Regions from separate parts of the Homo sapiens genome. Here regions 1 and 2 are each reported to be linked to region 3. The links are microRNA targets in miRTarBase. Many come from high-throughput screens and were not tested one by one. Region 3 holds a microRNA gene; each other region holds the end of a gene's coding sequence.
Evidence for each region. The annotated mature microRNA hsa-miR-3622a-3p reads UCACCUGACCUCCCAUGCCUGU and lies in region 3 at 1,682-1,703, opposite strand. An mRNA with a match to its seed (bases 2 to 7 or 8) in the 3' UTR can be bound and repressed. Matches are read on the target gene's strand: a 7mer-m8 pairs with bases 2 to 8, a 7mer-A1 pairs with bases 2 to 7 and ends in A, and an 8mer does both.

Region 1: the mRNA of RCC2 is a reported target of hsa-miR-3622a-3p. Seed matches in the 3' UTR shown: 8mer at 1,040-1,047.
Region 2: the mRNA of ABHD13 is a reported target of hsa-miR-3622a-3p. Seed matches in the 3' UTR shown: 7mer-A1 at 3,945-3,951.

What each region holds. Positions count from the first base shown.
Region 1 is chr1:17,404,360-17,409,425 of GRCh38, reverse strand. It overlaps RCC2 (regulator of chromosome condensation 2), which reads left to right. Exons shown (of 13, transcript NM_018715.4): 13 at 232-2,666. The coding sequence ends at 336. It also overlaps RCC2-AS1. Among named protein-coding and RNA genes, the nearest start is that of RCC2, 33 kb to the left of the region's middle.
Region 2 is chr13:108,229,973-108,235,038 of GRCh38, forward strand. ABHD13 (abhydrolase domain containing 13) reads left to right here. Exons shown (of 2, transcript NM_032859.3): 2 at 1-4,271. The coding sequence ends at 260. Among named protein-coding and RNA genes, the nearest start is that of ABHD13, 14 kb to the left of the region's middle.
Region 3 is chr8:27,698,353-27,703,428 of GRCh38, reverse strand. It overlaps MIR3622A (microRNA 3622a), which reads right to left and starts at 1,752; the gene lies at 1,670-1,752. MIR3622B (microRNA 3622b) reads left to right here and starts at 1,662; the gene lies at 1,662-1,756. LOC124901920 (a long non-coding RNA gene) reads right to left here and starts at 2,459. Exons shown (of 2, transcript XR_007060869.1): 1 at 1-2,459. It also overlaps a transcript of SCARA3 not described here. RefSeq lists a silencer at 150-295.

The DNA.
Region 1 (5,066 bases), not on the chromosome of region 3:
TTCCTTCCAGCTGGGTCTCCCAGGGCAGCCTGGAAGGCTCTGATTGGCAGAGCGTTGGTGGCAGTCACATGGAAACTAGCTGTCTTGGGCAGAGGGGCTTTTTGCAGTTTTCAAGGGCACTCTGTTTTTCTCCATGCTGACCCGCTTTAGCAGCCCAGTTTCCAGAGTCTCTTCAACGCATTGATTAGTCCAGGCGCCTCAGGCACACCCAACGCTGATTTGTCCCCCCAGGTCGCCATGGGCTACTCACACTCCTTGGTGATAGCAAGAGATGAAAGTGAGACTGAGAAAGAGAAGATCAAGAAACTGCCAGAATACAACCCCCGAACCCTCTGATGCTCCCGGAGACTCCTCCGACTCCACACCTCTCGCGGCAGCTGTCATTTCCATGTGCACTGGGACGGGAAGTCAAACGAGGAATTTAAAAAAGCAAAAGTTGACCGAAGGTGCATTTTTGTTTAGACTCCCTGAGGTTCCGTTTTACACATGATCCAACGTTAACTACCTTTTTTTCTGTATGCTTTCCAAAGTCCTTTTTTTTCCCTTAATGTTGAATTAAAATACTTGCTCATAGTTGATTTACCATTCCTACAAAAGAGGCAGAAACTTTGAGCAATCTAGGTTTTTTTTTTTTTTAAGTTTTTTCTTTCTTCCTCTCCTGAATACACTCCCCAAAACACCCCTTTCCAGTTACAATTAGCATCGTGATCCAAGCAGATGCCACATGGAAGAGGAATCGCCATTTACTCAGAAAAAATGTCCCTTACAGGAACCGGCAGCAGCTAGGCAGTCACCGGCCCGCCTCCATCCAAAATCACGCTCGCGTGCTTCGGAAGCATCCGGGTCACTCCTTCTCCGCTTTTTCTTGCAGATGGGCCTAGGCCGGTGTCGGTTCTGTTTCTCCCCTTGGCTGCCTGTACGCCCACAGCCTTCTGGCTGCGACATTATAGAATCGGCCGTGTCCCCCCTGGTGGGGGATTGGGGATCTGTGTTTAGCCATTTATATCTACTTTAGCTGTTAAAGAGGTCCAAATGAAAATCAGGTGATTGTGGAACCATGGGGACTTGGGGGTGGGGCAGAGGTGGGAACATTTGTATCAGTTGAGTCAGCTTGGTGGCTCCCTGTGGAGCCAGGGCTGAGCCTTGTCACGCGCACTCGCCAATTAAGAGATGGACCAGCCAGCAGTCAAGTGCATTCTCCAGTCCTTGCAAGAAGGATCAGCCCTTTCTGTGCCAGCCTCGATCGCCTTGTGCTTTGGTCTCTTTTTCTCCCCCCCGCCTGGATCCTGCCTCGCGCGGGCCGTCCTGTTGCTGAGACTCGGGGTACCGTTCTGCTGACCCAGCTCCCTTTAGTCACGTTTGCTTGGCTCTGGTACCAAATAGTTGGGATTACCGAAGAGTCCCCTTCCTTGCGTGTCAGCACGGATGCTGTGACTGCCACCTGCGTCCTCGTCAAGTGCCCGAGCTCGCCGCCGTGTGTGCTGCGCTGAGTGAGTTATGAGGTGCCTTTCCCGGAACCCTCCTCTCGCCTGGACCCAAGAGAGGCGACAGCTGTGGCTGGGGCTCTTGGTTTCCAGAGGGTCTGGACTGGTTTGGGTGCTTTAAAATAGATATTTAGTTCAGTGGTGCTTATGGGGGAGATGGGACTAGAACTTAAGTGTGAGACTTGGGTGGATGGGAAAGTTAAATATTGGTCTCTTCAAGTTTTTTTTTTCTTTTGCTTTGTTACCACTTGTCACTGTCTCCATGTTAAAATGCCAAAAATGATGTAGTTGTTGTTGCTTTTTTCCCTATTTTCCACCCCAGTCGCTCCTTACCGTGACTCCTGCCCTTGGAGGGCATGTAGCAGTGTCTGTCCTGCCAGTCCCAAGGCCCTGTGGGAGGAGACTGGCCTGCATCTCTCTAAGACTTAGTCTGACGCCACGCGCATCTCTTGTTCTGTGTTCAATCAGTAGTCCAGGGGAGAAGCTTCTGCTACTTCAGAGCTTTGCTAAACTAACCTAATTTGTCCAAATCACCCCAAAACCACCATCTCTGACGTAAGCTTCCATGCGACAGCCTGATCCGTTTCCCTGGACAGGTCTCTTTCCTGGAATGCAGCCCAGGCACCTGTGCTCCTGGCACCCTTGAGGTCTCTCCTTTGAGCCGTGGTCACCGAGAGGGTTGAGGACGCAGCACCCGAGGTCCCAGCCTTTGCAGGAGCCTCCCTGGGCTTAGCTGGACTTAGATCTTCGGTGGCCTCATGTAAACGTGGCAGCCAGCCTCTTCTAGAACCCTAGCCCAGGGACTGGAGCAGGAAAGGGACCTTCAAAGTGAAGACTGCCTTGTCCCGCAGCTCCTTCTGGCTTAGATTGAAAAATGGGCTTCCTAATGGGTTAAATCCTTTAAAACAAGGAGTTGTGGGGGAAGGGTGTCGTGCACTCCTAGAGAAAGGTACACAGTTGCCCGGTTGGGAATGTGCTTGGCGCTGACCCTGCGGGCATCTGACTGGTCTTCCAGCTCAGGAAAAAGAATTTGAAAGAGGCTTAGCGTGAAGGGGAATCAAAGAGGAGGTTGTGATTTGGTCGAAGGTGCCTGGTTTAGTGCTGTAATTGTCTTATTATTTTTTTTATATATATATTTCTTGGAGTAAACATTTTAAATAAACAACAACATTGTCTACTGTCTTGGATTTTGCATTTCTTTTTCGGTTGGAACGGAGCTCTGTTTTTCTTAACTCCTTATATGTGTACCTCCTAAGCCCTGGCACCCACAGAAGGTGGTGCCAGGAGACATGTGGCCCCAGGGGAGCTTCCAGGTTTAAACTGCACTGGTTGAAGTGAGTGGATCCCCCAACTCTGCCCCATGAAATGCTAGGGGAGTGGGACAGAGTCAGTACCTCAGTTGTCCAATTCAGAAGTGGAGTTCTTTGCATTTTCACTGGGGCTTTGAGAGGAAAAAAATAAGTCATGGGAGGCATCCAGCGCGGTGACTGCATGTGCACCCACTCCCCAGACTTCAGCAGGGGGCTCTGGTCAGGCCCCGGCTGTGGCTTCAGGCCAGTGCTGCTCTGTGCAGGCATTGTGGCCAACTGCCCACCAGAGGGCACCAGGAGGCTGGTCGTAGGTTCAGAGATCACGGACACTCTCCCTTCTAGGCTGCTGCTGAGTCTATACCGGGCAGAGTCCTAGACCAGACCCTTGCACAGGACACCGGCTCCCTGCAGCCGCAAAGATGCCTGGGATCCCTGGAACCTCGAGTGCAGGCCACCTTGTGTTGACTGGCTGAATAGTGTCCAGACCAGCCCCTCCTGGCAGGCATTGGCCCAGTTTGGGAGAGGAGGAAACGGTCTCCCATGGCCTGTTAGCTGCAGAAGGAGCATGTGCACTGTTGCAGGACAGTCCAAATGTAAAACACGGTGTTTCCCCATCTCCCCCCTTGGCAGCTTGGAGCTTCCCATCAGATGCTCCTGCCCTGGAAGAGCCCCCGTGGGCAGGGAAGCCACTGCTGGGGGCAGCGTCCCTGCTGACACACTGGCTGTTGTGTATTGGGCACATGCTGCAAATTGAGTGTCGTGTGTCTCGCCCCTGACTCCTGCAGTCCACTCCGACAGTCTTTTTGGAGACTGAGTTTCTTTCACCCAGGCTGGAGTGCAGTGGCATAATCGCAGCTCACTGCAACCTCTGCCTCCTGGGTTCAAGCGATTCTCCTGCCTCAGCCTCCTGAGTAGCTGGGATTACAGGTGTCCACCACATGCCTGGCTAATTTTTGTATTTTTAGTAGAGATGGGGTTTCACCATGTTGTCCAGGCTGGTCCCGAACTCCTGACCTCGTGATCCTCCCACCTTGGCCGCCTCCCAAAGTGCTGGGATTACAGGCATGAGCCACCGCGCTCGGTCTTGTATTTTTGAGATGGAGCTTTGCTCTGTCGCCCAGGCTGGAGTGCAGTGGTGTGATCTCTGCTTACTGCAACCTCTGCCTCCTGGGTTCAAGCAATTCTGCCTCGGCCTCCTGAGTAGCTGGGATTACAGGCAAGTGCCACCACGCCCTGCTAATTTTTGTATTTTTAGTAGAGACGGGGTTTCACCATGTTGGCCAGGCTGGTCTCAAACTGACCTCAAGTGATCTGCCCGCTTCAGCCTCCCAAAGTGCTAGGATTACAGGCGTGAGCCACCACGCCCGGCCACACAGGCAGTCTTGAAGGGAAGGCTGTTTGTTTTTTATTCCTGTGTTATAGAGGGAAGTGGGGTGCAGAGAGAAAATGGCTTTGGCTGAGGGACACAGTGGGGCGGGTAGGAAGACCTGTGCCTGGAACCACAAAGATCCTAGTAACAAAGATGGCCTCCCCTGCTCCCCCAGCCTGCCCCTGGCTGAGGACAGGGAGCCCATGTGACCTGTGGCCACCCTGGAGGGGCTGTCTTGAGAGCTTCGAGAACATCCAGGAGACCTTCACCTGCCCTTCCAGGGGCAGTGTAGGTGGCCAATACAGAGCAGCCGGGGCCTGCCAGGCCTGTGGCTGGGGGATGGGAGAAGCCTCCTGAAGTCGGGGGGGCAGAGAAGGCAGGCTCCCCACGGGCGGCTCTGGAGGTTTTTTTTTTTTAATGTCCCCCAGGCTGGAGTGCAGTGTCACAATCTTGGCTCCCCGCAACCTCCTCCTCCCAGGTTCAAGTAATTCTCCTGCCTCAGCCTCCTGAATAGCTAAGATTACAGGCACAGGCCACCACACCCGGCTAATTTCTTTGTATTTTTAGTAGAGATGAGGTTTCACCATGTTGACCAGACTGGTCTTGAACTCTTGAACTCAGGTGATTCCTCCCACTACCTCAGCCTCCCGAAGTGCTAGGATTACAGGCATGAGCCACCGTGCCCGGCCTTTGGCTCTGGGGTTTTCTCACCTGCAAAGCTGCTGCCTCCTGCTATTGTCCTGCCCCGTCAAGCCAGCAGCCTTTCTGGCCAATGTCCTCCACACTAAGCGGCTCCTTAAGCTCCCAGGGAAGAGTGAAAAGGGCTGGAAGGATGGCGAATGGGGAAGGGGACTTGCCGGTTCCTACCCAGCCCTGCTTTGCCCCGAACACCTGCCCCAGCCC
Region 2 (5,066 bases), not on the chromosome of region 3:
AAATCTCTCAGTGTAGAATGCCTTCACTTTTCATCTCTGGACTCTCAGATCAATTAATTCCACCAGTAATGATGAAACAACTTTATGAACTCTCCCCATCTCGGACTAAGAGATTAGCCATTTTTCCAGATGGGACTCACAATGACACATGGCAGTGCCAAGGCTATTTCACTGCACTTGAACAGTTCATCAAAGAAGTCGTAAAGAGCCATTCTCCTGAAGAAATGGCAAAAACTTCATCTAATGTAACAATTATATAATGTTTCCCTTTTTGATTATTGCATTGTATTTTAATTTGTGCAGAATGATAAAGAATGTTCCTTTTAGAAGTGTGTTATGTCTGTACCTGTCTGAAGAGTGACATTAAACTTTGAAAGGACTTCACTGCTCCTTTACGATATTCCAAATAGTTTTTTACATTGGAAAAACTAATTCTTGGGATTCTTTCATACATTTTCATCAAAACTTTCAGTGTGATTATGTATTCATATCTTCAGTTTAATATGTCAGTATAATAGATATTGTTCAAAAGTTTCTTGTTGCTAAAGTGGTGTAATCTGTTACACAGATGAATAGCTAGATGTGGAAAGAGATATGTAAACAAGAAACCTTTGGGTATTGTTTCTTAAGTAAATATTGGGACAATCATGGTAAGCAAACTTAGTTCTGTAACTGCATTTTTCACCTTAAAAGTTAAATGAAATGCATGATGGTATTTTATTCCTTGAATTATGCAATGCAACATTTTACATGTAAATAGCACTGGTCATATACTGATGTATATGGTTATCTGGGTTATATCTATTTTTATGTAAACTCTATTTTGTTTTTGGCAAGAAGTGAAATTGAGACTTATGTGCAGGTTGCCATTGAATTTTGCTCTGGTGAATGCTGAGATCCAGCTTTTTCTTACAAATAAATGGGACCCTGTTTTCCAATACAAATGTACCGTGTTTTTGTTAGGTACAGTCTGGATCATGGCATGTAGAAATAGAAATTTAGAATTTTACTGCAGCTTTGATGTGCATATTTGAACTTTTTAACATTTGTAACTTTGGTGGCAAAGAGAATTTTAGCTTCTATCGATTTTGTAAGTCTTCAGCTGAACCACTAATAGCAGTCATAGTGAAGATTAGCACTACTTAGAATTAAATTAGGAAGTCTTTTATCATTGCAGGATTGTACATACTACTTTATAAAAATTCTCACCTTTGATTTTAAATCCCAGTACCTAGTTATATCTAACCTATCAAAGGCAAGATATCATTTATTGGACTTCTTGAAAATAAAAGTTACAAAATCCAACAACAACAACAACAAAACAATGTTCTTGGTTTTAATGTTCCAGTTGCTGTGAAATAGAACTCCTACAATCAAAAGACAGTTTTAGGAAGTCTTATTTATTGATTTTAAAAGTTTTACATGTAGGAGTGTGGGAATGAAGGAATTCTGGAGCTTTTTGACACAAAACCTATTACCACATTTAGCAGTTAAATGGCTATAGGTGGGAAGTAGGATTTAGATGTATAGAAAAGTAAGAAAATCTTACTTAGAAAAAAGCCCCTTGAAACTTGCAGGATTTACTTAATAAAAATACACGCTATGAGTCATAATTGTGCCAAGTTGTTTCATGCAGTCCTCAAAAATTAGATGTAATTGAGCTTTGTGTAATATTATGTCAGCTTTAACATATAATATTTTGAATATTTTAGCTATATTTAGTGGCTTTCTGCAAGCAACTAGAACAGAGAAGTAATGGGTCAATAATCTTGACCTTAATTTAAAACTTTCAATGGAGATAGGGCTAGAAATACTTTTGCCAAATAGCATTCTTATTCACTTTATGCCGGTATTTAGAAAAAATAAATTATAGCAAGTATGATTTCTAAGAATGTTTTTCTATAAATTACTAATTGTAAAAAGTCTTGCTTTTTAAAACAAGTTGGTAATGCATATCATGGAAGGCATATTTTGTATGTATAAATTCACCACAATTAAAGATTATTCTTGTCAGTCCTTGCTATGTAGAATGACTATTCTAAATATTAATGTATTAAAAAGAAAATACAACAAAATGTATATTTAGACACGAGCTTACATGGCATACCTTATATTTGTATCATTCTTTAAAGTTTACAAAAAAAAACCTTATGTTTTTATGTAATCAGTCATTACACTAGGGAGAAATTTATCAGCTTTAGTTCTAAATATGCTCATGAGGTATAAAAGCTATTTCTTCATCAGTATTTTGCTTTTATGCTGCTTTTTCTTTTTGATACTCCAGGTTTATAAACTATCTTTTAAAATTTTAAGCCAGGACTTCAAAAATTGTAGAGTACTTGTTTGGCGTTCCCTACCTTCATTCTCTTAGGGTTAAGGAGCCTTTCTTTCTGCAGCTAAGGGCAGAGGCTGTGCCTAGGGCTATACCACCACTAGCATCTGTATTTGAGACTGTTTCCTTAGATGGGTAAGAGGTGGAAAACAAACTTAGTATCAGGGGTCCATGAAGCCCATGGCATCATTTTTGAAAATATTTCTAGTTTTGTAGCCAAAGCAATTGGTTTTAGTAAAATGAGACTTCTTCAGGAGTCACTCCTTTACTGTGGACCCATTGCTTAGTGGGAATGGAAGTATATGTATCTATCTTGTGTATTAACTTCTGACTTATTTATACAAGAGCAGCTATAGGAGTTTACAAAAGAACTTTAAGTTATTAAGTTACTATAAATTTGGGGATCCTAGAGTGATCTTAAATATGGCAAGATACAGCTCATTTAGAATAAAATCTCACATCCATTATTTTAAAGGGAATGATTGGGGGGAAAAACTGGTGAAAAAGAAATATAAAAAGGACCCTAAAAAGAATTCTGCAAAATAAGAGAAGAAATAATTTGTGACAGGTAATAGAATACTAGTAGGATAGAAACAACTAGAAAGGAAAGTGTGACACAGTTTTTAAATTTAGATGTAGAAAATAATGAATTAATGAGATTGGTGAAAGGAAATCATGCAAAACATTTGAATGCAAAGCATTTCTAACAAAAAGTGACTGGAGCACTTGCCATTGCAACAACCCTGTTTTTGCAATTAGGTTTTTGACTGTTAAAATGGATATTTTCATAAAAATGGTGTTCTGAATTTTGCTACAGGGCTGCTTAAATTTATGATTACCTGTAGACACTTGATATTTACATAGATTACAGCTTTGGTAATATGTCACTGGAGTAATTACGCTGTAATACCTGTTGAGAATTCATACCATCTGATGCTTATATATTAATTTCTTATGTTTGTAAGTTTGGCTTTGTGGGAATAGGTGTGGAGAAATTAAAGAGTGAAGGCCATATTTCATTTTTTATAAATTATCTTTCAAGCTCAGATAGCTTAAGAGCAGTTTATATTAAGGAGACCCTTTTCTCCTTGAGGATAGGGATAGGTAAGGTAAACTTGTAAAAAGGATGTCACAGAAGTCACTTTTTAATTAAGTCATGATTGAGATACTGAACTCTTCCACTCATTCTTCTTTCCCATTTTCCTATTATGTTTGATAATTATATGTATTTTTAAAAACTGTGAGAGGAAAAATTAGTCATAACCCTTTTGGGTTATCCACTTAAATTTAGGTATTTTCATATTACTCAGGTAAAGATGGAAATGACAGAGCACAGACATTTATTTTTTAAATTGATAGGGTAGAAAATGAAATGTACTTCTGTTTATTCTTAATACTATATATATATATACACACATAGTTTTAGCAAATTGGAAATAATATATTCATTTGTATGGCAAGATAAATGCAGTCATCTTAATACTAGTCTATACATTTTTGCCAAATGGCGCAAATATACCTCCATTTATATTTTGTATCTTAAAATGTAGTTTAAAAATAGGACCATGTATGAGACACTTTTTTACAAAAAGTGCCGTATATACATATGTAACAGGTGAGTGTGTGTTTAACATAATTTATAATTATTTCTGTCAGTACAGCGTATATGGAAAATTCAAGTTGTTTTTAACATATTCAAGTATGTTCAGTATAAAATAAGTTAATCCCATTTCATAATGTAAATCATATTTTTGTTATTTGCCATATTTTATTTGAAGTGATAAAATTTTATAACTCAAATTTGAATGTCATAGTACATTGTGTGCTAACCATGGCAAGCAAACATTTACATTTGTTTTTTACAATAAATTTCTTTTAAAATATACTTTCTATTTTTCTGTACTGACATATGCAATAAATTGGTACATTAAAAATTTGATTAATGTCTTCAGATAGTTTGTATTCAGTCTTTTTTTAAAAATTGTTAATCTAGAATTTTATGGTAGGACATTAAAATTTCTTCAATGGTTACGTAAAATTCCTGAATTTGCACTGAAATTAATGAATTTTATTCTAGTAATGGTGTGGATAAAAAATAGAAGTTAGATTTATATTTCCTTCCCCGGAGAGTATTATCCTCTTACATATATTTAATTTAGGCTAATATTAAAACTATACATAAACCACTGGTGAATGACTAATCCCTAATGCATTTCTTTAGTTAATTGAATCTAGGAATGAATACATTTTAACTTCATAATTATGTTGCCTTCAGATTTCATAAAATGCTTTTTTTTAAAAATTCTGCTTTTCCCCCCCTCTTGTTTGTATTTTAGTTAATGGTTTTTAATGATCAAAAAATGACCTGATACTAACTCAGCCTTTAGGGGCCTATACCTTGCTTTTCCTAACAAGAAATGTGCATGCTTGAATATGTCAGAAGGAGTTGGATCATAGGAAGTGTAAGATGAATCTTAAATGGTCCCCTGAAAGGGAAGATGAAGAATTCACGTATTGGAGCCCATCTTTGTATGGGTAGATCTAGTGGGAGCTAGGGTCTCTCATGTACTACCCTGAAAGATAGCCAACTTGAATCCCAGGGTGAAGTCATTTTTAGATTACTATTTCTTAAATTTGAAAGATAAGTTTTTTTCACATTCCCATTTCACTCTCCAACTCTTTCATTACATTCTGTTACATACTAAAAAGCATGAACAATTAGATCTGGCTAGAG
Region 3 (5,076 bases):
CCCTCCAGCCTCACCCTGACTTCTCAGCTTTCACTTTTTTCTGCTGATGGGTTGGAAATTGCTACTCTCCTGTTTTCTCTCCACCTGCACTAACAAACCCCAAGTGCTGCCCCCAGCACGAATCCCTGGTTCCCGGGTCCTCTGCCAGGTGCAGGTGCTGCGGCTTCATGTTCAAAGGATTCTGGGCACTGCGCTTTCTCCCTTGATGTGCCCAGCCAGGCTGCGGGGATGGGAGGCTCCTCTCCTGTGCGGCTCAGGCTGTTTTTCTCCCCAGAGCCTTGTGGCCAAGTTTCCGTGGCCCTGTGCTCTGGACCCTGGGCCAGGGCTGTGGTGTGGGCAGCCTTGAGGCCCTGGGTTCCATGCCAGTTCTCGACAGGAAGGCCTTTCATGTGGGTGCCAGCTGGCCTCTGGGCCCAGCTTCGGGCCTGGCAGGGCCTGAGGAGGGAGAGCTGCGAGTGTGAAAAACACTTTCTGTTTGGGAGCTGGTTGGTGGGAAGGAAAGACAAGAGGGAGGGGGACAGGCAGGTCAAAGAGCTTACCCAGGTTTAGAGGAGCGAGGCCAAGGTGCCCCTGTAGAAATGAGGCGATTCGGCCTTTCCTCCCCAAAAAGAGGTCTTGGCAGAGATACAAGGAAGCAAAGTCTGTTGGGTGGGGATGGAAAACACTTTCCCAAGCCTGCCTTCACTCCCTCCCTCCCCCGGGCTCACTGAGCCTAATCAGGTCAAGCACGCAGCTCCCTGCCAGACACTGTGGCATTGTTTAAAGCCGCTGCCTCCCCAGTACCCTCTCCCCACAGAACTGAGTTCTGACAAAGGAGGCCCTGAGGGACAGGGCTGAGAGGACAGAGACCCAAGGTCCAGGGACGCGTCACTCCCCTATGGCTCGCTCTCCTTCCCACTGGTTATTGTTTTTCTACCCTGGACCCCAGGGAGAAAAGGAGCCAGGCCCTGGCAAACCTGAAGGCTGTTTGTGTTGACATAAAGGCACTTTCTGAGCAAACAGCACTGAAAGGTCAGCAGTAACCCCAGGCAGTGCCAGGACTGGGCAGCGGGTTTGGGAGGTGTGGAGAGAAAGGAAACTGTGGGCCACTTGGGGTCGGATGACTTCACCAGAAGAAGAAGAAAAGCCAGCCAGGCTGCAGGGAGGGGGCTTCCTGGAGATGGAGCCCTGGAAGACCTTGGCTACCCCATAAAACTTAAATAGGACTTGAAGTCAGTTGTTTATCTGCTTTCCAGAACACCAATGACATGGGAGAGAGGCTGGCGCCCTAGGCAGGACCCAAGCGAGCCTGGTGTCTGGGGCAGGATCTGCCACTACGCTTGGCTTTCTCACTGTAGGACTCAGTTTGCATGGGAAACCAAAGGAGAATTTCAAGTGTCCTACTCACACATATTCTAGCCTTTCAGGAAACATTTACTGAGCATACATCACCCACCTGATAGGGGGCTAAGCCTGGGAATGCTTTCAGAGATGAGTAGCACAAGGTCTCAGATAAGGTGACCCATTTTCCCCGTTTGCCTGGGCCTCCCAGTTTTAGCACTGAACATCCCTTAGCTCAGGAAGCCCAGGAAACCCTTTGGTTTGGGGCATACTTGGTTGGTTGGTCACCCTAGCATCAGTCATCAAGCAGCTCACGATCTGCAAACAATGGTAGACATACGAGTGATATAATAGAGGGTGCACAGGCATGGGAGGTCAGGTGAGCTCAGCTCCCTGCCTCACCTGAGCTCCCGTGCCTGTGCACCCTCTATTGGCTATGATCACACCACTGCACTCCAGCCTGGGTGACAAAACAAGACCTTGCCACTAAAAAAAAGAGAAAGAAAGAAAAGAAAGAAAGAGAGAAAGAGAAAGAAAGAGAGGAAGGAAGGAAGGAAAGAAAAAGCTACTTTTTGAATGAAAGAATGAAAAAGCATCTCTCAGCTAGGAAATGTCTTGCCATGATGACACCTGTGTTCAATGGGGAGCTACGAGAACATTTTAAAAAAATCTACTGTACTGAGGCATAATTTACATATAATACAATGCATACACTTCAATGTAGACTTTGATGAATTTTAACAAATATATACACTCAGTAACTGTTAAATCAATCAAAATATTTATAGCACCCCAGAAACTTCCCTATTTCTCTTTTGTAGTTAATCCCATCCTAACCATCCCATCCCAGGTAACCACTTACCTGATTTCTGTAACTATAGATTCATTTTAGTTTTTCTAGAACATCATCTCAATGGAATAATACAGTCTGTACTCTTTTGAGTGACTTCCTCTACTCAATGTGCTTTTGAGATTTATCCAAGTTGGTTTGCATATCACTAGTTTTTTTGTTTTTTTTTTACTGGTGAGTATGGATTTATCATAATTTTTCCATGCATTTGCCTATTGATGAACATTTGACTTGTTTCCAGTTTTTTGCTATTCTGGACAATGCTGTTGTGAATAGTATGTACAAATTTTGGTATAGAAAAACATTTTCATTTCTCTTGGGTAAAAACCCAGAAGTGAAATTGCTGGATCATAGGTTAAGTATGTGTTCAGATTTATAGGAAATCACCTAACTTTTCCAAAAGGGTTGTACCACTTCACAGTTTCACCATTAATGCATGAGAGTTCTCGTTGCTCCACATCCTCACAACATTTTGTATTGTTGGTTTTTGAAATTTTAGCCATTCTAGTGGTATCTCAGAGTGGTTTCATTTGCATTTCCCTGATGATTAATGAAGCTGGAACACTTTTTCATGTGCTTACATGGTCATTCATATACTTTTCTTGCAAAATGTCTGTTCATGTCTTTCATCTTTTTTTTTTTTTTTATTTTTGAGGTAGAGTTTTGCTCTGTTGCTTAGGCTGGAGTGCAGTGGTGTGATCTCAGCTCACTGCAACTTCCACCTCCTGGGTTCAAGTGATTTTCCTGCCTCACCCTTCCAAGTAGCTGGGACTACAGGAGCCCACCACCATGCCCAGCTAATTTTTGTATTTTTAGTAGAGACAGGGTTTCACCATGTTGGCCAGGCTGTTCTTGAACTCCTGGCCTCCAGTGATTTGCCCATCTCGGCCTCCCAAAGTGCTGGGACTTTCATCCATTTTTAATTTGAGCTGCATGTCTTTTTCTTATTGAGATGTATGAGTTCTTTATGTATCCTGAAAGCAAGTCCTTTGTCTCATATATGTATTGCAAATATTTTCTCTTATTCTGGGATTTTTTTTCTTTTCATGTTCTTAAAGGGATATTTTAAAGAATAGAGGGTTTTAATTTTGATATAATCCAATTTATCAAAATTTTTCTCTTATGGTTTGTGACTTTCATGACCATATTTCTTAAAGTCACAAAAATTATCTTATGTATTTTTTAAGAAGTTTTATAGATTTAGTTTTTACATTTAGGTTTGTGGTCCATATCAGATGAATTTTTGTGTATTATATGAGGTAATATCAAAGTTTGTTTTTTGCATATAAAAATCATTTGTTGAAAAGACTTTGAAATCATTGGTGTCTTTGGGGAAAATCAATTGATATATATGTGTAAATCTATTTCTGGATCTCAATGTGGTTCAATTGATCTATATGTCTGTCCTTACACCATTATCTCATTGTCTTAATTACTGCTGCTTTAGAGTAAGTCTTTTTTTTTCTTTCTGAAATTTTAAATTTTTATTTTTTGTAGAGTTGGGGTCTCACTATATTGTCTAGGCTGGTCTGGAACTTTTGGGATCAAGTGATCCTCCTGCCTGAGCCTCCCAAAGTGCTGGGATTGCAGGTGTGAGCCTCCATGACAGACCTAGAGAACGTCTGGATATTATGTAGTATAGGCCCTCCAACTGAACTCTTCTTCAAAATTCTGTGGATTTTCTAGATCCTTTGCACTTTTATATACATTTTTAGAATCAGTTTTGTCAGTGTCTTTAAAAACAAGGCTGCCGAGGCCTGGCACAGTGGCTTACGCCTGTAATCCCAACAACTCATGAAGCTGAGGTGGGAGGGTCACTTGAGCCCAGGAGGTCAAGGCTGCAGTGGACTATGATCATGCCACTGCACTCCAGCCTGGGTGACAGAGCAAGACTCTGTCATTTACAAAAAAGAAAGAAAGAAAAATAAGGCTGCTGGGATTTTGATTGGAAGTGTGTAGGATATGTAAAAGAATATAGGAAAATGAACGTCTTTTTTTTTTTTTAATTTTTATTTGAGACGGAGTCTTGCTCTGTCACCCAGGCTGGAGTGCAGTGGCGCAATCTCGGCTCACTGCAAGCTCCGCCTCCTGGGTTCCCACTATTCTTCTGCCTCAGCCTCCCAAGTAGCTGGGACTACAGGCGCCCGCCACCATGCCCGGCTAATTTTTTGTATTTTTAGTAGAGACAGGGTTTCACCATGTTAGCCAGGATGGTCTCGATCTCCTGACCTCATGATCCACCTGCCTCGGCCTCCCAGAGTGCTGAGATTACAGGCGTGAGCCACTGTGCCCAGCCATGAACGTCTTATTAATGTGAGTTTTCTTATACATGAACATGAGATATATATATAGATAGACAGATAGATAGATACCACTATATATATATATCTCCATTTATAAAGATATTTAAAAATTTCAGCAATATTCTGTACTTTTTACTATAAAGATCATGCCCATCCTTTACTAAATTCATTCCTATATATTTTATATTTTTATGCTGTTGCTAAATGATTACTTAATTTTAATTTTCTTATTTTTTGCTCCTAGTATATAGAGATGCAATGGGTTTTTGTATATTGGCCTTCTATATTATGATATTGGTAAATCACTTTTTAATAATTGCCATTTTCTTGTAAATTCCCTAGGATTTTCTATACAAACAACTATGCTGTCTGTGAATAAATACAGCTTTATATTTTTCCTTCCAATATGTATTTCTTTGTTTGTCTTATTTCGTTGGGGAGGACCTCTAGTCAAATAGAATAAAAGTGTTGGGAGATGAGATCCTTGCCTTATTTCTGGTTTATAAGGGAAAACATTTAGACTTCCACCATTAAATTTGCAATTAGCTATCCCTGGTGCTCTTGTTGTCATATCAACTTGACACATTATAAATCCAATCTCCA